Linked DNA regions of Homo sapiens. The protein of the gene in region 4 purifies or fractionates together with the protein of the main gene of each other region. This does not show direct contact. Each region holds a gene or a part of one and is shown on either strand. Other genes may lie near its edges.

Region 1 (7,754 bases), on a different chromosome or scaffold from region 4:
TGGTGTGAACCTGGGAGGTGGAGCTTGCAGTGAGCCGACATCGCGCCACTGCACTCCAGCCTGGGTGACAGAACAAGACTCCGTCTCAAAAAAAAAAAAAAAAAAAAAAAAGAAACTAAAAGAAGGTCAGGTGTGGTGGCTCACACCTGTAATACCAGCACTTTGGGAAGCCCTGGCCAGAGCATCACTTGAGTCCAGGAGTTTGAGGCCATTCTGGGTAACACAGCGAGACCTCCTCTCTACTGAAGAAAAAAAAAAAAAAATCAGCCAGGCATGGTGGTGCACGCCTGTAGTCCCAGCTACTTGGGAGGCTGAGGTGGGAGGATCGCTTAAGCCTAGGAGGTTGAGGCTGCAGTAAGCCGTGATTATGCCCCTGCACTCCAGCCTGGGCAACAGAGTTAGACCCTGTCTCAAACAAGCAAAAATGTAATATGGAAAAATGCATGCAGCCTTGCTAGCAACTAAAGAAATACATTTTAATGTGACTTCTAGACACCACTATGAACTGTATTAAAATAGCATAAAAATGCTTAAAAAAACAAAATTGGCAAAGATGATGGATTACAAATATACTTTTATAGTACTAATGGCATTTTGTAAATTAGCTCAATTTTTGGGAAAGCAACATGACATTTATGAAAATAGCAGTTAACACTTATTGCGTACATAATATGTGCTAGGTGCTAGGCTGGATCCCAGAAACTATCCATTCATGATCTTGAATTCTTAAAAAAAAATAAATTTTTCTTAATAAGTTCCTTCATTTTACAGATGAGGAAACTAAGGCTTAAAAAAATAAAATGTTAATAAACCTGTAAGAGTGAGGCAGGCAAATCACTTGAGGTCAGGAGTTCAAGACCAATCTGGCCAACATGGTGAAACCCTGACTCTAATTTAAAAATATATATATATACACAAAAATTAGCCAGGAGTGGTGGTGCACGCCTGTAATCCCAGCTACTCAGAAGACTGAGGTAGAAGAATGGCTTGAACCTAGGAGGCGGAGGTTACAGTGAGCCAAGACTGCGTGTGCCACTGCACTCCAGCCTGGACAACAGAGCCAGACTCTGTCTTTGAAAAAAAAAAAAAAAAGAAACCTATAAGAGGTTGAAGCCCAGAAGATGTTTCTGTCATTCAAATACAAAGCCCTGCATGTTCCCTCCTACCTCGGGACCTTTGTCCAGAATGTTTCTTCTCCCCAGAATGTTCTATGCACGAGCACAGCCCTCCACAAATTAATACCTATATCTCTCTTAGATATCAGCAACAATATCACTTCCTAAAGAAAGGGTCATCGATACTCACCCACTAGATCTGATCCCTCTCTTATACTCTCTCGAAACCTATACATTTGTAATTACACCATTTTTCTGAGCATTTATTTTAATTTAAATATATCTCAGGCCAGGCGCAGTGGCTCAGGCCTGTGATCCCAGCACTCTGGGAGGCCAAGGCGAGCAGATCGCTTGAGCTCAGGCATTCGAGACCAGCCCGGCCAACATGGTGAAACCCAGTCTATACAAAAAATACAGGCCGGGCGCGGGGGCTCACGCCTGTAATCCCAACACTTTGGTAGGCCGAGGTGGGTGGATCACCTGAGGTTGGGAGTTCGAGACCAGCCTGACCAACATGGTGAAACCCCCGTCTCTATTAAAAATACAAAATTAGCCAGGCCTGGTGGCGCATGCCTTTAATCCCAGCTACTTGGGAGGCTGAGGCAGGAAAATCGCTTAAACCCGGGAGACGGAGGTTGCAGTGAGCCGAGATCGCGCCATTGCACTCCAGCCTGGCCAACAAGAGCAAAACTCCGTCTCAAAAAAAAAAAAAAAAAAAAAAAAGTTAGTTGGGTGTGGTGGTGGCACATGCCTGTAGTCCCAGCTACTGGGAAGGCTAAAGGGGGATTACTTGAGCCCAGAGAGGTCAAGGCTGCAGTGAGCCATGATCATGCCACTGCACTCTAGCCTGGGCAACAGAGCAACAGAGAAAGACCCTGTCTCAAATATATATATAAAATAATAAAATAGAGGTATTCAGGTCTCTTATGTCCAATTTTACTGTTCCTTCCCCTGTACAACCAAAGATTTTATATATATATATATATATATCTCAATCACTAACACCCAGCTCCAAGAGGGCAGGGATCCTATCTATTTGCTCTTTACAATATCCCTGGCACCTAACAGTGCTAGGCACCTATTAGGCAGTCCTAATATTTGCTAAAGCAATGAATGCCAATTTACCTTAATTTAAAAAGTATTAAATCCCTTAACCAAAAGATATAATTGACAGTTCTCAAATCAAAACCTTGAGCACTTTCCATGAACAAGACACTTCACTAGAGCTGCAATTATTCTTGTGTGATGTATCAGAAATATTTGTTTGTATCTACCCTTTGACCCAGCAATTCCATTTGTCAGAATTTAGCTGGCAGGAAAAACTCTCATATGTGAAACGATATATTAGTAGGCTTAAGTAAGTAACAGGAGATCTTGGATGCTTTCTTTATAAAGCTTGCAGCCTAACCAGTGAAACTGACATTGGTCAAATTATCTGATTCCAAAAATGTTATGATTACAAACTGTGATAACAGGTACAAAGAATGGCCGGGTGCAGTGGCTCACACCTGTAATCCTAGCACTTTGGGAGGCCGAGGCGGGGCAGATCATTTGGGGTCAGGAGTTGGAGACCAGCCTGACCAACATGGTGCAACACCATCTCTACTAAAAATACAAAAAAATTAGCCGGGTATAGTGGTGCATGCCTGTAGTTCCAGCTACACGGGAGATTGGGGCAGGAGAATCTCTTGAACCCAATGGGTGGAGGTTGCGGTGAGCCAAGACTGCACCACTGCACTCCAGTCTGGGCAACAGAGCGAGATTTTGTCTAAAAATAAAATAAAATAGAGATATTCAGGTCTCTTATCTCCAATTTTACTGTTCCTTCCTCTGTACAACCAAGCATGTTTCTTCAGACATAAAACGAATTATTCTCATCTCACTTTGGGCTGGAATGGATCAAAGTGCTAGACAGAACTTATTTCAAAACAAAGCAGAAGTAGGAAGGAAAAAGGTACAAATCAAGAATTACTAAAACTAATTTTCATGTTCCTGAAAAGGCCCGTATCTTCAGAACAGGGCATTACCCTATAACCAAAAAAGGTCTCTTTACATTTCTCTCAACTTTAAACTAGCAGATGCTAGACGAATTTCCATTACGCATTCTCCCAACAAAAGGCTAATCAACAACACTGGGAGAGGAAAAACAATATTCCCACTCATCATGCTCCCAATTTCAGTATAAATTAAATAATTTAAAATCTGGCACTTAGTCTATCTATTTTCCGAGTCGATAATCGAGATCATTCCCCAAAAAAACTTCAAAAAAAAAAAAAATCAAAGGTTGTAAACTAGTCCTCAAGATTTAAAATTAAGTAAATCTTTTTTTTTTTTTTTTTGAAACGGAGTCTCACTCTGTCGCCCGGGCTGGAGTGCAGTGGCACCATCTCAGCTCACTGCAAGCTCCACCTCCCGGGTTCATGCCATTCTCCTGCCTCAGCCTCCCGAACAGCTGGGATTACAGGCGCCTGCCGCCACACCCGGCTAATTTTTTTGTATTTTTAGTAGAGACAGGGTTTCACTGTGTTAGCCAGGATGGTCTCGATCTCCTGACCTTGTGATCCGCCTGCCTCGGCCTCCCAAAGTGCTGGGATGACAGGCGTGAGCCACTGCGCCCGGCCTCAACCTTTATTATATAATTAAATAGCACAGATTTTAGGAAAGAAGAAAATTATTTTAAAGTATATACTTAGAGCATAACTACTCAAGTAACAAGATACCAATAAAGCTGTTAAAATTACAAAGCCAGGTGCTGTGGCACTCACCTGTAGTCCCCACTACTCAGGAGGCTCAGGTGGGAGGACTGCTTGAGACCAGGAGTTTGAGACCAGCCTGAGCAACAAAGCAAGACCCCATCTCTAAAAAATTTAAACTATAAGAAATATATTGTGGGCGCAGTGGCTCACACCTGTAATCCTAGCACTTTGGGAGGCCAAGGCAAGAGGATCACTTGAGGTCAGGAGTTCAAAACCAGCCTGGAGTTCAAAACCAGCCTGGCCAACATGGTAAAACCCTGTCTCTACTAAAAATACAAAAAATTAGCAGGGCGTGATGGTGCACGCCTGTAATCCCAACTACTTGGGAGGCTGAGGGAGTAGAATCGCTTGAACCAGGGAGGTGGGAGGTTGCAGTGAGCCAAGACCGCACCACTGCAATCCAGCCTGGGCAACACAGTGAGACTGTCTCAAAACAAACAAACAAACAAACAAAAATAACACACACACACACACACACACACACACACACATATATACATACACATATACACACACACACACAAATACACATACATACACATATACATACACATATATACATATATATAGCCCGAGCAACAGAGTGAGACCCTGTTTCTAAATTAATTAATTAGGCCGAGGATAGTGGCTCATGCCTATAATCCCAGCACTTTCGGAGGCCAAGGCGGGCAGATCACTTGAGCGCAGGGGTTCGAGACCAGCCTGGCCAATATAGTGAAACCTCATCTCTACTAAAAATACAAAAAAACAAAAAACAAAAATTAGCCGAGCATGGTGGTGCATGCCTGTAGTCCAGCTACTTGTTGTGCCTGTAGTCCCAGCTACTCAGGAGGACGAGGCAGGAGAATCGCTTAAATCCAGGAGGTGGAGGTTACAGTAAACCAAGATCCCACCACTGCACTCCAGCCTGGGCAACAGAGACTCGGTCTCAAAAATAAATAATTAATTTAAAATTGTTTTAAAATTAAGGATTAAAAAAAGTAAATATGAACTAAAAACTCAGGAACTGGATGTTCAAGCTGGTCAAATAGGAAATTACACAAATTTGTGCTTAACAAGAAGTAGAAGTTCATTTTAAAAGATGCCTCCTTACAGAGAGGCCTAAAAGCAAAAACAGATTAGATTTCCATTTTTAAGAGTTCAGCAAAGAATCAAACTTGTTATATGTAATTTTTATTGCAATAGTAGCTTACTTCTGCCATGTACAAGAATTATTTCCTTGACTGTTCAAAACAAGGAAGAACAGAGGTTTCCAAGAGCCTTTGAAGATTACAGAATAAAACACCAAAAGAGATAAACACCTTACTCCTACGCCAGTCTGTACTTTCTTCTGAAGCCTTGCTTTGACTACCTGCTCAACTTTCATATTAATTTGTCTTAACATGTTTTTCAAAATATTACATCTGCCAGGTGTGGAGGCTCTTGCCTGTAATCCCAGCACTTTGGGAGGCTGAGGCAGGAGGACGGTTTGCACCCAGGAGTTAGAGACTAGGTTGGGCAACAAAGCAAGACCCATCTCTACAAAAAAATTTTTTTTAATAGCCAGGCATGGTGGTGAGTGCCTGTAGTCCCAGCTAGCTACTTGGGAGGTTGAGGTGGGAAGATTTCTTGAGCCTGGGAGGTCGAGGCTGCAGTAAGCTATGATCATGCCACTGCACTCCTCGCAACAGAGCGAGACCCTATTTCAAAAAAAACAAAAACAAAAACAAAATTACATCTGACCACTCTAAGGCCTCTGAAAATGCTGACTGCTTCCTTAACAATCATTTGCAGATGATCTGAATCCTCAGTTTCCACTCTCACTTTATTCCTGGTTTTCTTCCTATCCTTCTGTTCGTTCCTTGTCTGGCTGCAATTTTCTCCACTCGATATTTAAGTAAGTATTCTCCAACACTTGGCTCTATCTAGGTGCTCTTCAATCTTTCCATTTATATACCTCACTCGGTGACCACTTCGACACCCACAGCTTTAGCTCCATGTATTCCAGATCTACATATGGTATACACACTTAACTACTGAACCCAGTCATCAAATCTTACACTGTCCTTAAAATGTCAGGAGTCTCTCTGCTCCATTCCTACTATCATTTCCTTAGTTCAGGTTCTAATCATTTCTCTCCCTGACACATCAATGAATGACCGACCTCTTCACTAGTCTCACCACTACCAAGCTGAAAACCCTGCTATGAAGGTAAACTTTCTAAAAATGAAATGTGACCACGCTGCTCCCCTGCCAAAAATTATTTACTAGGTCTAGTATTATTCATTAGGTTATCTAATTATTTAATAGGTTTTCAGGAAAACACTCAAATTAGCTTACACAGTAAGTTCCTGCCAATAACGCTAAGCTCCATCTCCACTACGCTGTCTTTGGCTCCAGCCAAACTTCAAAGTCCAGCTCACATTCATCCTCTGTACCCTCCTTGACTCTGGCATTCCCCACAAACACTGAATACAAACGCTGACCTAAGGCATTACTTCATCTAGGAAATTATCCCTATCCTTTAGGCTAATTTAGATACCTGCTCTAGATGCTCACATAAAATCTCTTCTATATCAATCACACTCATTTATAGGTCTCTCCAGCGGACTATTAAGTCTCCAGAGAAACAGTACTTAGTAGTCCCTGCACCAGACAAAGAGCATTCAACAACTGCAGTTTCAGGGAATGAATGGGGATTAAACGGGAGTTTATATTTTAGTAATGTTATTCTAATGATAATGAACTTGCTCCTTTTACTAGGATAGTCAGTAGTCAAATCCTTTCCTGTCATTGAAATGGCAATTAAAATTTTTCATTTTCTAACTGATCCACAGTAACCCAAAGCCCTTATCACTTCAACTCTCTATTCGTGAATCAAAAATTGATTTTGCAGCCAAATATAAATTTCTTTAAAGGCATAGGTCTGTCCTTTGTGAAGAAGGTAGAGCAAATGACATAGATAACTATGTTAATTAAAAAACAGGTCAGGTGCCATGCCTCACGCCTGTCATCCCAGCACTTTTGGAGGCCAAGACAGGAGGATGACTTCAGCCCAGGAGTTCAAGATCTGACTGGGCAACGTAGTGAGGCCCTGTCTCTATAAAAAAGAAAACAAAATTAGTCAGGCATGGAGGCATGCTCCTGTAGTCCCAGCAACTTGAGAGGCTGAGGCGGGAGGGTTGCTCCAACGGGGGAGGTCAAGGCTGCAATGAAACATGATCACACCACTGCACTCCACCCTGGACAACAGAATAAGACCATGTCTCAAAAAAAAACGATAATTTTTAAAATTTCTCTCCAATTCCCCCACTAAACTCCTTCCAACTGATTAAAATCCTGTTCCTCCATTACCACCTCTTCCAAATTAAACTTTTTTTCTCCCTCTGCCTATTCTTTTAATTCATTGTTCAGGCAGAACTGTCTACGTACAATAAGTTGATTTGAGAAAGGTCCTGAATTAAAAACAATCATCTCCAACATTTTCCACAGTCTTGAGGTCAAATCAAATTATAAACCTTGATTTAAAATGTCCCACAAGGGAAGCGGACTAGAGCAATCTACACGGAATTTTGGGGAGTGCTAAAAACTACAATGAGGCCCATTAGGTCAATGACCCAAAGGATAATTAGAATGATTCTATCCAAAAAAGACCTGCTTTATATATATATATATAGTTAGCAGCTATTACAACTTCCTCTCACCTTGCTCTCCTCCCTCCCTTTTATCTACCCAATGCCAACACAGCACTTAAATTTTTTTTAAATATTGGAAAGGGACCAAGTTATGCTAGATTAAAGGTGGAAGATCTATATTGTGCCCTAGACACCTCCAAACGTTTTTTTTTTCATGTCAGATGGGTAATGTGCTGACCCTGTAACAAGGTTTGAGGATGGCATATCTC
Region 2 (7,754 bases), on a different chromosome or scaffold from region 4:
TTTTTCTTTAGAGATGAGGTCTTACTGTATTGTCCAGGCTGTAAGCATTTATCTTTAGAGTTTTTCATTACTTTGCACAACCATTTTATATATTAAGAACAATAATCTCTTATCAGACATCTGTTGTAATTAATAAATTAGTAAAATATTTAATAAGCAAAATAAAAATCAGCTTCCTGTCAAAAGACTAAGAAGAGGTTCTCCTTCTCCTCTCCCTATTAAAGAAAATAAGTGGCCGGGCGCTGTGGCTCATGCCTGTAATCCCAGCACTTTGGGAGGCCAAGGCAGGCAGATCACAAGGTCAGGAGATCGAGACCATCCTGGCTAACACGGTGAAACCCCATCTCTACTAAAAATACAAAAATTAGCTGGGCACGGTGGCAGGCACCTGCAATCCCAGCTACTTGGGAGGCTGAGGCAGGAGAATCGCTTGTACCCAGGGGAGTGGAGGATGCAGCAAGCTGAGATCACGGTACTGCACTCCAGCCTGGGTGACAGAGTCAGATTCTGTCTCAAAAAAAACAAATAAAGAAAATAAGTTTTAATTTCCAAATATTTGGCATTTCTTGCCAAGCAAATGAAATCCAGCAATCCTATTTAATTAACAAGTGCTTTTACTGCGAAATTTTTCTCAATGCCTATAATAAATAAGCACTTTCACAATTCAATCAACAACTCAAAAAAGTTTGAAGGCCCAATGCCAAATGTAGTCCTTTAACAGAATCAAGAGACATTATGATGGTTCAAAGGCAAATTAATTGAAAAGAAGAAAAAAAGCATCTCATTTTTGGAAATAGCAAACTTCTAATTTGAATGATGTTTAAAGTATGCAAGTTAGAGGCCAGGCACAGTGACTAAGTGTTATCACAAAAGAGTCAAGAGACTGGGCATGGTGGCTCACAACTGTAATCCTAGCACTTTGGGAGGCTGAGGCGGGAGGATCACATGAGCTCAGAAGTTCGAGACCAGCCTGGGAAACATAGTGACACAACCTCTCTACAAAAATTAAATAAAATTAGCTGGACGTGGTAGCACATGCCTGTAGTCCCAGCTACTCTGGTGGCTGAGGTGGGAAGATCGTTTAAGCCCAGCAGATCACGGCAGTAAGCCATCATCATGCCACTGCACTCCAACTTGGGCAACAGAGTAAGACTCTGTCTCAAAAAAATTAAAAAAAGAAAACTTTTTAAAGAGCCAAGTTTCTTTTTTAAGTTTATAAAGGCCAGGTACAGTGGCTGATGACTGTAAGCCCAGCATTTGGGGAGGAAAGGACTGGCAGACTGCTTAAGCCCAGCAGTTTGAGACCAGCCTGGGCAACATATTGAAAATTGACTCTACAAAAAATAAAAAAAAAAAAAATAGGCCAGGTGCAGTGGCTCATGCCTGTAATCCCAACACTTTGGGAGGCCGAGGCAGGCAGATCACTTGAGGTCAGGAATTTGAGACCAACCTGGCCAACATGGTGAAACCCCATCTCTACTAAAAATACAAAAATTAGCCAGGCGTGGTGGCACGTGCCTGTAATCCCAGCTACTCAGGAGGATGACACACAAGAATTGCTTGAACCCAGGAGGTGGAAGTTGCAGTGAGCCGAGATCACACCACTGCACTCCAGCCTGGGCGACACAGCGAGACTCTGCCTCAAAAAATATAATTAATAATAAAATAAAATAAATAATTAGCCAGGCATGGTGGCACACATACATAGTCCCAGCTATTCAGAAGGCTGAGGTAGGAGAATTGCTTGACCCAGGAGTTAAGGCTGCAGTGAGCTATGACTGAGCCACTGCACTCCAGCCTGGATAACAGTGTGAGACCCTGTCTCAAAAAACACAAATAAAAAAATAAAAGCCGGGCACAGTGGCTTACTCCTGTAATCCCAGCATTCTGGGAAGCCAAGGCGGGTGGATCACCTGAGGTCAGGAGCTCGAGACCAGCCTGGCCAACATGGTGAAACCCCATCTCTACTAATAATACAAACATTAGCCAGGTATTGTGGTACGTGCCTATAATCCCAGCTACTCGGAGAATCGCTTGAACTCGGGAGGCGGAGGGTGCAGTGAGGTGGAGGTTGCAGTGAGCCGAGATCACGCCATTGCACTCCAGCCTGGGAGACTAGAGCAAAACTCCATCTCCAAAAAATAAAAAATAAAATAAAATACAGAAGTGAGGGCCCTAACCACACAAAAGGATAATACTAGAAGTTCACAGTGCAAAATCATCCTTTCAACTGGGGTGGAAAACCCACAGTAATTTTTTAAGTTTATAATTAGATTTAACAGCATTAGGATCCTAATAAGCAAGTTAAATCAGAAACCTTGAGACAATTACAAATATTTTATGTATATTTTGGGACCCAAGTATTAAGGCTATAAATAAATATTAGCCCACATCTATGAAAAACGACTCATGTTTCTTTCTAATGAATTGACCATTACATTTCCAAAGTTATGAAATGGCCAACAGACCATAGAAAGACAATTCTTTAGGCTCCTGCTTGAAACCAACAGCTTCAGCAAACTGCTGGCCTTGATTCAGGGCCAAAGGAAAACAAAATCCTTCAATTAAGCAAACTAGCACAGAGATTCCCACTAGTCTTCAAACTAGCAAACCACAGCCTTAACAGGCAGAGTAAAAAGATACGGGTAAGGCAGTGTCTGGTCATTGGAAGAGACTGATTGGAACAACGAACATCATCCACAAAGGCCAAGCACCTCTGACTGGAACGAGTGGTATGGGCCTGAAATGGAAAAAGACAGATAAAATAGACCCACAAAAGAACACACAAACAATTACGATGAAAATAGTTATATAAGAAAAGCACATCCTAAAGGCTAGAAATTCAACATTTAACAAAAATAGATTCACCAATATTATGCAAAAGACAAAAAACTTTAAAACCTAGTGCATAAAGAATGAGTCAACCTCAATCCCAAATACACCTCTCCATATTCTAAAAGTGTGATATAGCCTATTTAACACAAATTTTGTCTTTTACCAACAGAACTCTGAAATTGCAGCCTTAAGTGGAATCTCAACAAATGAAACAAAATTACTCTTACTGAAACAGAGACCAAGGGTCTGAAAAACAAATTTAAGAATGATCACTTAATTCTTCTTCCTATTAACCTTACTTCCTGACATTCAATTGCTCCTATTCTACCTTCCCACCTTTTAAAACAAGATTCCCAAGCAATTTAGGATTAACCTGTGCTTATTTCTGAACTGAAGAATATCTGAACCAAGGACTTAGAAACTTTTCCCAACTACTCAATATGCAGATGAGAATACTGAGGCCCAGAAAATTTAAGCTAACTGTGCAGACACAGAGCTGGTCAGTGGGGACTCACACTAGAATCCATGTCTCCTGACTTCAAGCTAAGTGCTTTCACTATAACCCATGTGCAAAAAGTCAGATTTCAGATCCAAGACTGGACATAGGGAGTTCAAGACCAGCCTGACCAACATGGAGAAACCCCGTCTCTACTAAAAATACAAAATCAGCCAGACATGGTGGCACATGCCTGTAATCCTAGCTACTCAGGAGGCTGAGGGAGGAGAATCACTTGAACCCAGGAGGTGGATGCTGCGGTGAGCCAAGACGGCGCCATTGCACTCCAGCCTGGGCAACAAGATTGAAACTCTGTCTCAAAAAAAGACTGGACATAGTGTTTTGACAATTACTCTAACTTTGTAAATAAAGTGAACATGAACAGGCACGGTGGCTCATGTCTGCAATCCCAACACTTTGGGAGGCCGAGGTGGGTAGATCACGAGGTCAGGCATTGGAGACCAGCCTGGCCAACATAGTGAAACCCCAAAAAATACAAAAACATTAGCTGGGCGCATGGTGGTGGGCACCTGTAATCCCAGCTACTCGGGAGGCTGAGGCAGGAGAATTGCTTGAAACTGGGAGGCAGAGGTTGAGAGATCTCAGTGAGCCGACATCGCACCACTGCACTCCAGCCCGAGTGACAGTGCGAGACTCCGTCTCGAAAAAATAAAAACAATAAATAAAGTGAACGTATATACCTTAAAGGTATACACACAAATTACCTGTTGGGCAGCACCATCTGTGGCCAGCATTCTCCGTTCCTTCAACTGCCTATGCAGTAAGGCTTCCACTCCATAGCGCTGGCGGTATCGTCGCAGACATTTTAATCGCTTTAAGTTCTCTCGTTCTTTGGCCAAAAGTCCCTCTGGGCCAGTCAGGAGACTACTGCCTAGAGTTACAAGAGTCAAGATGTTATTTGCCAAGCAATCCATCAAGGTTACGTCTCCAAGTCAACAAGTAAACAGGAAAATCCTTGGGCATAAGATAGGCAGTTTCAAAAGCAAATGACCCCCAATCCAGGTACCAAGACAGAAATAAATCTAATTATAGTCATGCACTATATAACCACTTTTTAATCAATCATTGACCATACATACTATGGTGGTCCCATAAGATTATAACAAAGCTGGAAAAAAAATTTTTTTTTTTTTTGAGGCACAGTCTCGCTCTGTTGTCCAGGCTGGAGTGCAGTGGCGCAATCTTGGCTCACTGCAAGCTCCGCCCCCCAGGTTCACGCCATTCTCCTGCCTCAGCCTCCTGAGTAGCTGGGACTACAGGTGCCCGCCACCACGCCCGGCTAATTTTTTTTTTGTATTTTTAGTAGAGACAGGGTTTCATTGTGGTCTCGATCTCCTGACCTCATGATCCGCCTGCCTTGGCCTCCCAAAGTGCTGGGATTACAGGCATGAGCCACCGCACCCGGCCAAAGCTGAAAAATTCTTATTGCCTAGTGACATCATAGTTCAACCCACACATTTGTGGTGATGCTGGTGACCAAACCTACTGCACTGCCAGTTATATACAAGTCTAGCACAGGCTGGACACAGTGGCTCACACCTGTAATCCCAGCACTTTTTGGGAGCCCAAGGCGGGCAGATCACCAGATCAGGAGATTGAGAACATCCTGGCCAACATGGTGAAACCCCATCTCTACTAAAAATACAAAAATTAGCTGGGCGTGGTGGCATGCGCCTATAGTCCCAGTTACTCAGGAGGCTGAGGCAGGAGAATCGCTTGAACCCGGGAGGTGGAGGTTGCAGTGAGCCAAGATCACACACTGCACTCCAGCCTGGCGACAGAGTGAGACTATATCACAAAAAAAAAAAAAAAAATCTAGCACCTACAATTATGCACAGTACCTAATACTCGATAATAAACAACTATGTTACTGGTTTATATATTTACTATATTTATCCTTAGAATGTACTCCACTCTATTTATTAAAAAAAAAAAGTTAAATGTAAAACAGCCTCAGGCAGTTCTCTCAGAAAGTATTGCAGAAGACATTGTTATCATGAGATGACAGTTCGCTGCATGAGATTGTCCCCGAAGACCTTCCACTGGGACAAGATGTGGAGGTGAAAGACAGTGACACTAGGCCCATGTAGGCCTAGGCTAATGTACGTGTTTGCATCTTAGTTTTTAACAGAAGTTTAAAAGGATTTTTTTTTAATTAAAACTAGAAAAGCTTATAGGGATATAAAAAAAATTTTTGTACAGCTGTACAGTGTTTGTGTTTTAAGCTAAGTGTTATTACAGAGTCCAGAAGTTTTTCTTAAAAATTTTTTTAAGTTTATAAAGGCCAGGTGCAGTGGCTCATGCCTGTAATCAATCCCAGCACTTTGGGAAGCCACGGTCGGAGGATCACTTGAGCCCAGGAGTTCAAGACTAACCTGGGCAACATAGCGAGACCCTGTCTCTACAAAAATTTAAAAATTAGCTGAGTGTGGTGGTGCATCTGTAGTCCTAGTTACTCAGGAGGCTGAGGCAGGATAGCCTGAGTCCAGGAGTTGAAGGCTGCAGTGAGTGAGGACTACGCTACTGCACTCTGGCCTCAGTGACACAGCAAGATTCTGTCTCTTTAAAAAAAAGCTTATAGGCCAGGCGCAGTGGCTCATGCCTGAAATCCCAGCACTTTGGGAGGCCAAGGTAGGGGGATCACTTGAAGTCAGGAGTTCCGAGAGCAGCCTGGCCAACATGGCAAAACCCCCCCTCTACTAAAAATAAAAAAATTAGCCGGGCATGGTGGAATGTGCCTGTAATCCCAGCTACTTGGGAGGCTGAGGTGGGAGAACTGCTTGAACCTAGGAAGCAGAGGTTGCAGTGAGCTGAGATCATGCCACTGCACTCCAGCCTGGGCAACAGAGTGAGACTCCATGTCCGTCTCAATTAAAAAAAAAAAAAAATGAAAGTAAAAAAGTTACAGTAAGCTAAGGGTTAATTTATTATTGAAGAAACTTTTTTTATAAATTTAGTACAGCTTAAGTGTACAGTACTTATAACGTCTAAAGTAGTAAATAATAATGTGCTAGGCCTTCCCATTGACTCACCACTCACTCACTCGCCCAAAATAACTTCCAGTCCTACAAGCTCCATTCATGCTAAGTGCCCATTTTTAAAATCTTTTATGCCATAATTTAACTGTACCTTTTCTCTGTTTAGATGTGTTTAGGTACACAAATACCACTGTTACAACTGCCCACAGTATTCAGTACAGTAACATGCTTGTACAGGTTTGCAGCCTAGGTATGTTGCAGGCTATACCACCTACGTTAGCGTGAGTCACTCCATGAAGTTTGAATGACAAAAATCACCTAACAAAGTATGTATCCCCATCATTAAGTGACACATGACTGTACTACCAAATTCACATGTTAAACCCACAACAGCTTGTTGGAACTGGCATAAAACTTGCCTAGAGCTTCATGTTCCACTTTGCGATTATGTAAGTATCGGCGCTTCTTCTCCTTGAGCAGATGCTGAAGTCGTTTAAACTGATCAATATACAACGACTGCAAACGAATTAGCTTTTCACGCATAATCAGGGCCACTTCTTCTGCTGTGTAGACACCAGCATGTCTGGAATAAAACAGAATTCAGCAAAGCATAAGAAAACAATAATAATAAAACCCAAGTTTGAAAGAGTAGAGATGTCAGACTAAGTTTGTTATTTAACAAGTGGTGACATAATCACCTTAATGTTTTTGCAAAACATTGTACCATTCAAGTTGTTATTAAATAAAACAAAAGAGAAAATCTCCAAGAAAGAATACTAATCTGTGATTTCCCAAAATGGGGGAAGGAGAAATGTCTTATTTTTCCCAGCTATTTGCATTATGTTGAAAAGAAAGTGAACATGCGGAACACTTTAAACTTTTATTAATCTACATTCTTAATGTTTTGATATGAAATCATCACTTACCAGTCAAGACAGCTTTAAAGTGTTCAATTAACATGTATCTTTCACATATACATATATACATGTATATATACGTATATATATATACATGTATATATATATATACGTATATATATATATATATATATATATTTTTTTTTTGAGATAAGGTCTCACTCTTGTCACCCAGGATGGAGTGCAGTGGTGCAATCAATCACAGCTCACTATAACCTTTGCTTCCTGGGCTCAAGCGATCCTCCCACGTCAGCCTGCCGAGTAGCTGGGACTACAGGTGTGCACCACCCCACTTGGTTAATTTTTGTATTTTTTGTAGAGATGGGATTTCACCATGTTGTCCAGGCTTGAACCCCTGGGTTTAAGCGATGCTCCCGCCTCAGCCTCACAAAGTGCTGGAATTAAACGCATAAGCTACTGCACCTGGCAATATATTTTAATTAAAGCACTAAAGATACCAACATCAAATAATTTTTTTTTTTGAGACAGTCTTGCTCTGTCACCCAG
Region 3 (4,064 bases), on a different chromosome or scaffold from region 4:
AATGGGTTCTTGAAAACTATACTCCCAAGAGGATCCCACTGAGTACTGTGCATTTCTTCCACAGAATGTGGACTCTAACTACTATGGGCTTACGAAAATGCAACTGACAAACCATATACCCCCAAGCATGTGTAAAACATTACCCCAAATACTCATTCATTGGATGGATGTGGAAGAGACTAGTCCACGTCTGATTTTGTGTGTGAAGGACTATACTGTACCATCCATCAATTTTCTTATTTTAGCCAGGCACATAAATAACATTTTTATTTTACAGGTAAGGAACTTGAGTCCCAGAAAAGTTAAGTAACTATCCCAGGAAAATAATTGGTACTCAAACCTAGAATTGATCCCAAAGCCATGCTTCCAACAAAGTAGAGAAAAAAAACACCAAACAGGTGGATTGAAACTTTAAAGCTCACGAAACATCCCAAATGTGACATCCAAATCCTGTACATAAATATTTGTATGTAACATTTTGGAAATGGGCATGGTTTTCCTTTTCATAACCTCAGGTTTACTGCTTTAAACTGAAATACAACACAAATACAGAGCAGTGCACAAATCGTTAAGTGTACGGTTTCATGAATTTTCAAAACCTCAACACATCCAAGCAGCCAGCACTCTGATTAAGAAACAAAACTAGCCAGGCATGGTGGCTCACGCCTGTAATCCCAGCACTTTAAGAGGCTGAGGCAGGTGGATCACCTGAGGTCAGGAGTTTGAGACCGGCCTGGTCAATGTGGCAAAACCCCGTCTCTACTAAAAATACAAAAATTAACTTGTATTGGCGTGTTGGCACATACCTGTAGTCCCAGCTACTTGGGAGGCTGAAGCAGGATAATTGCTTGAACCCAGGAGGTGGAGGTTGCAGTGAGCCAAGATTGCACCACTGCACTCCAGCCTGGGTGGCAGAGTGAGACTCCGTCAAAAACAAATAAGCAAAACTATACCAGCCCTTTTCGTGCCATCATTCCTTATTTTTTTTTGGAGATGGGATCTTCCTTTGACACCCAGGCTGGAGTGCAATGGCGCAATCCTAGCTCACTACAGCCTCGAACTCTCAAGGCTCAAGTGATCCTCCCACCCCAGACTCCTGAGTAGCTGGGACTACAGGCTTGTGTCACTGCACCCAGTTGTTTAAATTTACTTTCTAAGGCAGCCTTTAGAGTTTACAATTTAAGTTAGATGTCTGTCAGAAGCAACAGAGAAACAATGTTTTATTCCCAAAAACCGAAATGAAAAAAGATAGGGTTTAAGGCTCAAGAGGTACATTTTAAAAAATTATCTTTATTTAGGTTTCTGATTCAGCACATGTATCAAAGACTAATCAACATAAAGGAGTAAATAAGACATTAATTGAAAGTCTTACATCTCTCTAAACTCTGACCAAGAATGTCAAGATTGCCACTATTACCAGAACTCCAACCTAGTCAAGTTGTAGACAAGCTATCATGAACAACATACAGTGTGCACAGATATGCAGAGGCAAAAGGCATGCTAGCGCTTGGCTCTCCTCTTTTCCTTGTTGACATCTTTCTGTTGGACAGTCCACTTTCGCTTTCCAGGCTAAGTTCCAAATCAAGTCCAAAGAAGGCTCAGGGGTCAACCTGACCAGATACTCTTCTGGAGGAATGCATTCTTAAACTGTTGTGCCTGCAACTTTGTTTTTGCCAGGATGAAGTTCAGACCGAGATGTACAATACAATCTAGATGACGGTGCAGACTAAGTCAAGAACTAAAGTTGTGCAGTAACCCGAGTTAAGGCATGAATGCAGACACACACATGCACACACACAGCACCCATGCTATCAAGACACAGGATTTTTTCAGTTGCCTCATGAGAGGCAACCTGGGCTTGGCAGTTAATCAGAACTGCTGAGCATTCCAGAAAATGCCCCCCACGACTTTATGCTAACAGCTGTGTGTATGTTTTAATCAAAAAATTAAAGAAGAAAAAAAAACCCTAAAAAACAAAGAAAAAAACAAACAAAAAATCACCAAAAACCTAGAAACCCCTTAATCTCTTACAATGGCTCTTGAGCATGGAACTCATGTAGCAGCATCAATGGCTGGCTCTTTAACAATTTGGAAATAAAAGGTTGTTTTACTATGTATTTCTTTGGTAGTCATCACTACAAAGTTTTCAGTGTTGGTTACCTATAAGACAAGTACTAGACAGAAGATCAAGTTACACAGAAATATTTCTTCTGTACTGATAAGATACAAATATTGAGCTCTCAAAGCACAAGTTACTATGCTTTTTCTTGCCTTATTGGGCATTCTCTAAAAGCAAGGCTTTGTGCAGGAAAAGTTCATGTCTACCTAACAAAGGGTGATACATGTTCTATTTTCCTACAAGTGAACAATTAACAAAAATTCACATTATCAATTATTTCTGGTTGAATTCTGTTAGAAGCCAATTACAAAGGGACAGTAGCACTTGGTGTCAAAGCCACTTTCTGGTCACACATTCATTCCATGGTTGCTAGTCAGTATCTCAGGAGCTCAGAATTTAAAACTCCTTTCAGTCAACGAAGGAGTAAGTTCAATTAAAGGCTTCCACTATCTGCCAAATTTCTAGAATTCTGTCTAGAGTGCTAGCATGCTTGATGAGAGAAAGCAGTTCAGAGCCCAAAGAGGTGTCAGGTATTAGGTAAGTTAATTTGGTTTTGTATAAAAGGCATGGTAATCTGGCAACAGAGTACTTATCCTATTAGCAGCACAGTGGTAGCCAAGGGTCTCTGTCTGCAAGACAGGAAAATGAAGCTACTGAAGCCCCTGTTGCTCCCACCTGCCTGCAGGACGGCTACTGATTTTACAAAGGCCTTCTGGGAGCCAATCCAGGGCTCACCTGGGAGAGTGGGTAACAGAATGGCAGGAACCATGTTCAGCCCCCATGAGAAGTGCCCGACTGAGGGAAGTCAGCTTCCCATAGGTGAGGGGGCTGTTGCCATTATGGGCTCAGAATCTAAATCTTACTGATCCCTAGTAGTAAGACAATTGCCAAGAAATTGTCCTAGCAGGTACTACCCAAGTGTTACAGGCTCTGCATAGGTCCTCAAACACTTTAAAGGACACGAACCATCAAATTCAAAAGAGTAGTGTTTGTTCTATCAGTTCTGAATGTCCACAGGGAGAGGCAACTAGATTTATGTGGAAAAAGTGCTGTTTGAAGGAGCTGTGTTTTATTTCGAAGTGAAATGACTTTGGGAACCAGAACATTTCTGCAGATGTCTGAATATCAAGAACCTATCTCTAAAAGGCATTTATCAGGAAATGTTCGCTCACTCCAAGTGCTTTTTAAAAATTCAACATATGGCAATGTTTTAATTTTTGTGCTTTCAAGAGGTAACTAAATCGATAGGAAGCTGAGGGAAGATCATTCCATTATGGACTTTCTTGTTTGGGTGCAAGACACTATCCACAGCATTGAAATCTATAATCTCATAAAAGATTCTTATAAACATATACCATATTTCTCCTATAAGAAAAACTGAGAACTGTACCATGAAGGCAAAATTTGTTTGCCTACTCTCAGAATTCCTTGGAATGGCAATGTACCAGGAGGGTGAGTGAACTGTTGGTGAAAATTCCGGGTTTGACATGGCCCAGTCTGATCACATCAAAAACCTAAAGCCTCAATGATTAAATGCCAAACTTCTTCCCTGCATCTGAGAACTGTATTATGATTATGTATATTACACATACATTATAAATAAAATTTATATAGACCTACAGTTTCTTCCAAACAATTGAGTGATGTTCTCAGTTTGGGGGTGGAAGCAGGAAGAGGTGAAAAAATCTTATTGTTGCTTTTACTCTCAAGTTCTTAAAACGCTAGTCAAACACTATTATCCAACAAGACTTTTTTTTTTCATTCTGTTAACTCTTAAATATGCATTCGAAGGCAAAAATGGAGGTTTCTATACTGTACAATATTAAATATCTACAATGTCATGGTTCCTTATTTTTAGGAGTGTGTTTAATAAAGAGTTGGCTATTAGAGATGGTTGTCACAAAACATGGACTCTTAAAAATTACTGATAAATTACTTTTCAGTT
Region 4 (4,873 bases):
CCTTATCAAATTCCATCTAAATAAATACACATAATAAATACATACATGCATCTCTTAGGATATTCATTGGAAAGGACATGGATTTTGTCATCAGACATGGCTTCAAATTGTAGCTCCATTCTGTGTACCGGTAGTTCGAACTTGGACAAGTCACTTAACCTCATTGAATTGCTGATAAGGATGATAAGTTTTGCAATTGCTGATAAGGATGATAATCTCTGGCTGTTAGGATTAATAAAATAATGCATGAGATTACTGAGTATGATACCTTTCTCTCATTATGCTTTTAGTAAATGATTCCCATTCTTTGTGGTCTCTACTTACATTTGACTGGAATTTAACTTCCTATTAGAGTTTTCGTAAATACCTTTATATAGGTAAAGGCAGCTAGGACTCTTCTGAAATGAGATTCAGAATATAGGTATACTGAGAACAGTTCGAATGGGAGATAAACACTACTACCTTCTATCTCCATTTTTGGTATTCTAATTCTTTGGAATTCATAGTATTTTTTTCCTCAAATTATAATTTTTAAAAAACATTATGTTGTTCATAGTTTATATTAATATTTCTTAAACTCCCTAACTTTAGATCTCTAGCCAATTCTTTTTAAAGTTAATTAAAGCAGGAATTAAAATTTTTTATAATACTTCTCATGCATAAATATTAAATAAGAAAAAATGTACTTGATGTTTCAACTTTCCCACCGGTTCAAAGATCTTTGGGATATGTAATCCATGGTCTGTAAGAATAAATGTAAACTTCAGTGCTATATAAACTATAGTCACTTTTTCATTTGTAGACTTTCCATCTTTAATAACATTTTATTGTGTAAATAAAAGCTTGACATACACTTTTTAAAACAAACTTGTACATTAGAATTCATTTTACTTGTGATTTACACATTAATACATATTTTAAACCTAGGTGCCACAGAAACAGAAGAACAGGTTTGGAATACAATTTAATATATTTTAAAATGAGTTACATATATTTTAAAAACATGAGCCGTTTTGTTATTTGACAGTTCTAGTTACTTTAATAGTTTCTATGGTAACATGCATTTAAATCTGTAAACACCTGGTACGTTCACAGTATTTGGTTTGATAAACTAATTAGTAAAAACTGTATTCAATCAATTGATAAATTAACTTTTTCTTTTATATTACAGGAAAACAACCAAAGTTTTAAGTAGCATTTTAAGAACAGATGAATTTAAGTTTGGACATCTGCAAATGAGGTGGATCTAGCAACAATAACTGTAATGGACTGTGACAATTCAATTTATTCTTAATTTTGATGGTTGGCTATTTGACTTCTCTAAAAATGAGAAAGAGCTATTTTAAAATATAAAGAATTTTCTAATCAGTTTCAGCTTTGCAGGAGGTTTCCTGCATAAATTGGGAAGTAACACTGGAAAGTAGGAATTTGGTTAGTGAAGTGGGAAGACTGTATATTTATAATTTGCATACTACTTGCAATTTTTTGTTTTTCATCACTTGTAATAATGGAATGGAAATGTAAGCTGTAAAGACTCTCAAATATAAAATATTTGCTACAGTGTATATATGGTACATAATTGCTTGTTGCTTTTAAAGTTCCTTCTGTTGTTCTGCTTCCCACTGATTTCATACCAGCTCATGAATGGATCATTACAGTCTCTCCAGAGGCTTAGAATGATTCAGAATGTTCAATGCATAGTTCTCAATAAACAGGAGGCAGAATTTTTAATGGGTATTTCTTTTCAGATATATGATTGGTCTCTAGGTTTTTGATAATAATATGGTCTTAAATTCATAATTACTAGCAGAGATTGATAATTTGGAAACAATGGTAGTGAATGAAACTGAAGTTGAAAAACGGCTGCTACTTATGTCACTAATCAGACCATATGAATAGCAGAAGTTGAGCAATTTCAAAGTAAAACTGATATTTTTATTTCCAAAGGAATTTAGACATTTGAAAATAATTGACATACATTAAGTTTTAATTCGATAATTTCTTATATATGGATGAACAATTTTTGGGTTTAAGCTTTTAATTCCTAGAAATTTTATACATTAAATCTCCTGCAATTTGTCACTCTGGATGTTACTGTTTAAAAAAAAAAAAAAAAAGGGTTTCTTCCAGAAAAATCTGCTGATATATAGGTAAGTAAGTGTAAACTCTCCCTAATTCTATTTCTTAGATCCCTAGGTCTATTGGCAAAAAGTTTGTTTCACTGAATTTTGAACTCCTAAACCAGTACTTTTTTTTTCACTGTTTTTTGAGCTTGTTTCCCAGATTCAAGCTTGTATTCCATGTTACGTTTCCCATCTTGGTCTTTTAGTGACCTCTTTTTTTTATTTTTTAATTTTTTAAATTTTTTTTTATTTTACTACTTTGTTCTTTAGGAAAATGGGGTTTTAAATAGAAAAAAATCTTCGTTAACTATAAACTTATTGTTTACTTTAGGATGAGATATTTATACTTAGGTCCCAGTTTTTTCTTTTTTTTTCTTTTTTCTTTTTCTTTTTCTTTTTTTTTTTGGCCCTACTAGTTTCCTTTTCTACTATAGGTTCCAGTATATATGTGTATGTGAATACACACTCACACACATTCACATACATACAACTCTCACAAACATACACAAAAATACATGTATAATTTGTATAAGAGCTGGGGTCAGAATGACCATATAATTATATTGGTTTGCTTTGTTATTTGCCCGTTCTCAAGTCATTCTAATTCTTGTTTCAGAATATGATAGAGCTTATTCCAGTTTGGAATCTGCAGATCCCTTCCACTTAGTACTGTTAATGAAAACAGAACCCTTTTAACAAGTAATACTACCATGCTACTTTGGAAACTGCCTAGTACCCAAAATATTTGATATGCTTTTTGAGTTGGATACTTAAATGCACCAACCAAAGCAATGTTTTGATTGGCTATAATTTGTATTTTTGAAACCATTTACAACAAACATTCTCAAGAAGAGTTTGTATGTCAAAAGTCATTTAGGTTTTAAAGTCTTTTGATCTTTTCTTACTATATACAATCAGTCTGCAGAGACTGTTATGTGTCTGTTTGCCTTTGTACATATATATAGCTTGTTTGAATAATCATTGTGCATCTCCATTAATGTTGTTCTTTGCTTTGTATATAAATTAAAAGAGTTGACCCAGGTGTTGTTACACAGTGTCTGTCATCCTTAGAGTTGACCAGAGGCACACAAATACACACACACACACACACACACACACACACACACACACACACGTGTGTATGTACAATATATCAAAATTTACTACTTATTTCTAATAGAACTATGAAAGGATTTTAAAATTTTATTTATACTGAATGAGAACTGAGAGTATACAAAGGTATTGGTAAAAGTTGCTGTTTCATGAATTAGTTTGAGAAAATATTTTAGGTCAAATTTATATTTAAGAAATAAAATTTTATTAGTTCAATCTTCCTTTTTTCCTGAGTTTTTCAAAGGGGGAAAAACAGGAAAATTTTACCTTATAATTTTCCTCAAAGACTTATAGTTTCAAAGGAATTTATACTAGAAAATAACATGGCTATACATTTTTATATGTATTGTATTTTCATTAGCAAGGTTTATAACCAGAACAGATTTTTATTATTAAAAATATTTAATTTCTGAGCTTGTTGAGCAGAGTGTAGATAGTATACTATCTACAGATAGTTCTATAGGTAGATAGTTTTAGTCATTCTAGTGTTGAAATTCGAAAACAGATGTCTTCTGTCTAATACTTTCACTACTATTTTATGACTTCCCTAAGATTTTGTGCTTGTTTTATATTTCTTAGTTATTCATTTGGGTTAAAATTTTATTTTTCAAGTATTTTGAAATCATTGTTTACATGCAAATATGTATTTTTCATAAGAAAAGTTAGCTGTCTGTATCGCATACCAAAACTATATAGCATAAAACTTGAACCACATTTTTCCAAACAGTCTCTTCTTTCTTGATATATTTAACTTACATAACAAAGAATTATGATGCTAATAAATGACACAATGTTGCTGTATTACTAAATGGTACTCCAACTTATCACAGGATTGTTCACTTTTGAAAAACCAGTCTATAACCTGATACGTGGATAGAGATTCTATAGGTTACAGCCAAGGTTGTTTGATGCCTATATACTAACTTTTTAACTAATGCAAAGATAGTAGTCATAGGGCTGTGAGTTGGGTTGGGGATGGAGTAGACATTGTTGAAGAATAAACTTCACTCACAGTTACTTAAAAATCACAAAACGCTGATTTAACCCTTTACAGTATACGACAGTTTACAAAATCTGCCCTATGAAGTAATACTCTAAAAGTTTCCACTTTATTTTTTCTTTATCATAACAGATTCATTTTCACAATATTATTCCTTTATGCATATGCTTTTTTCCACATATTAGGATTTTGTCACTAAAAGGTTTTAGGTGAGTTACAATGTAGCAAAGCATTTAGCATTAAATATTGAGAATATTAGTGAACTTTGAAAATTGAGCTAAAATTCACATGAATTGATAAAGTTATAGAATAAGTTTTGAAAGAGTGCACTTAGTAAATATACCAAACAAAAATATACAGTAGATTAACAACCGCAGATAATTTTCTAATTGACGTTTTAGATAAGAACACCTGTTTTGCACTTGGAACCATAAAGAAAATGTCTAGGAACATCTAGTTGTTCAGGATCCACCACGAAGCTGAAAAGAGAAAAATGTTTTCTAAAATAATGAAAATAACTTATAGGGCAAAGAACATTCAAGGTGCAAATTATTTCTAAAGAGACCATTCCCCTTACCTTTAGTCTGCATAATAACTTATCTTTCTAGTCACCATTTCCTGACTATTTGAGGCAAGA

What was found.
Region 1: the proteins of NECAB1 (region 4) and RNF138 purify together in Homo sapiens (affinity purification with mass spectrometry; 2 studies listed by BioGRID and IntAct, with this or other methods). This does not show direct contact.
Region 2: the proteins of NECAB1 (region 4) and KANSL2 purify together in Homo sapiens (affinity purification with mass spectrometry; 2 studies listed by BioGRID and IntAct, with this or other methods). This does not show direct contact.
Region 3: the proteins of NECAB1 (region 4) and CCDC6 purify together in Homo sapiens (affinity purification with mass spectrometry; 2 studies listed by BioGRID and IntAct, with this or other methods). This does not show direct contact.

What each region holds. Positions count from the first base shown.
Region 1 is NC_000018.10:32,094,553-32,102,306, reverse strand, and holds part of RNF138 (E3 ubiquitin-protein ligase RNF138), read right to left. Parts: exon of another isoform or gene 7,701-7,754; intron 1-7,700. UniProt on the Homo sapiens protein: E3 ubiquitin-protein ligase involved in DNA damage response by promoting DNA resection and homologous recombination.
Region 2 is NC_000012.12:48,665,050-48,672,803, forward strand, and holds part of KANSL2 (KAT8 regulatory NSL complex subunit 2), read right to left. Parts: intron 6,914-7,754; coding exon 6,750-6,913; intron 4,224-6,749; coding exon 4,057-4,223; intron 2,741-4,056; coding exon 2,644-2,740; intron 2,545-2,643; exon of another isoform or gene 2,408-2,544; intron 1-2,407. UniProt on the Homo sapiens protein: Non-catalytic component of the NSL histone acetyltransferase complex, a multiprotein complex that mediates histone H4 acetylation at 'Lys-5'- and 'Lys-8' (H4K5ac and H4K8ac) at transcription start sites and promotes transcription initiation.
Region 3 is NC_000010.11:59,787,493-59,791,556, forward strand, and holds the end of CCDC6 (coiled-coil domain-containing protein 6), read right to left. Parts: 3' UTR 1,255-4,064; downstream 1-1,254.
Region 4 is NC_000008.11:90,955,329-90,960,201, reverse strand, and holds the end of NECAB1 (N-terminal EF-hand calcium-binding protein 1), read right to left. Parts: intron 4,716-4,873; coding exon 4,690-4,715; coding exon of another isoform or gene 4,634-4,689; 3' UTR 1,196-4,633; coding exon of another isoform or gene 1,172-1,195; 3' UTR 809-1,171; downstream 1-808. Other genes in the region: uncharacterized protein C8orf88, read left to right, coding at 1,172-1,195.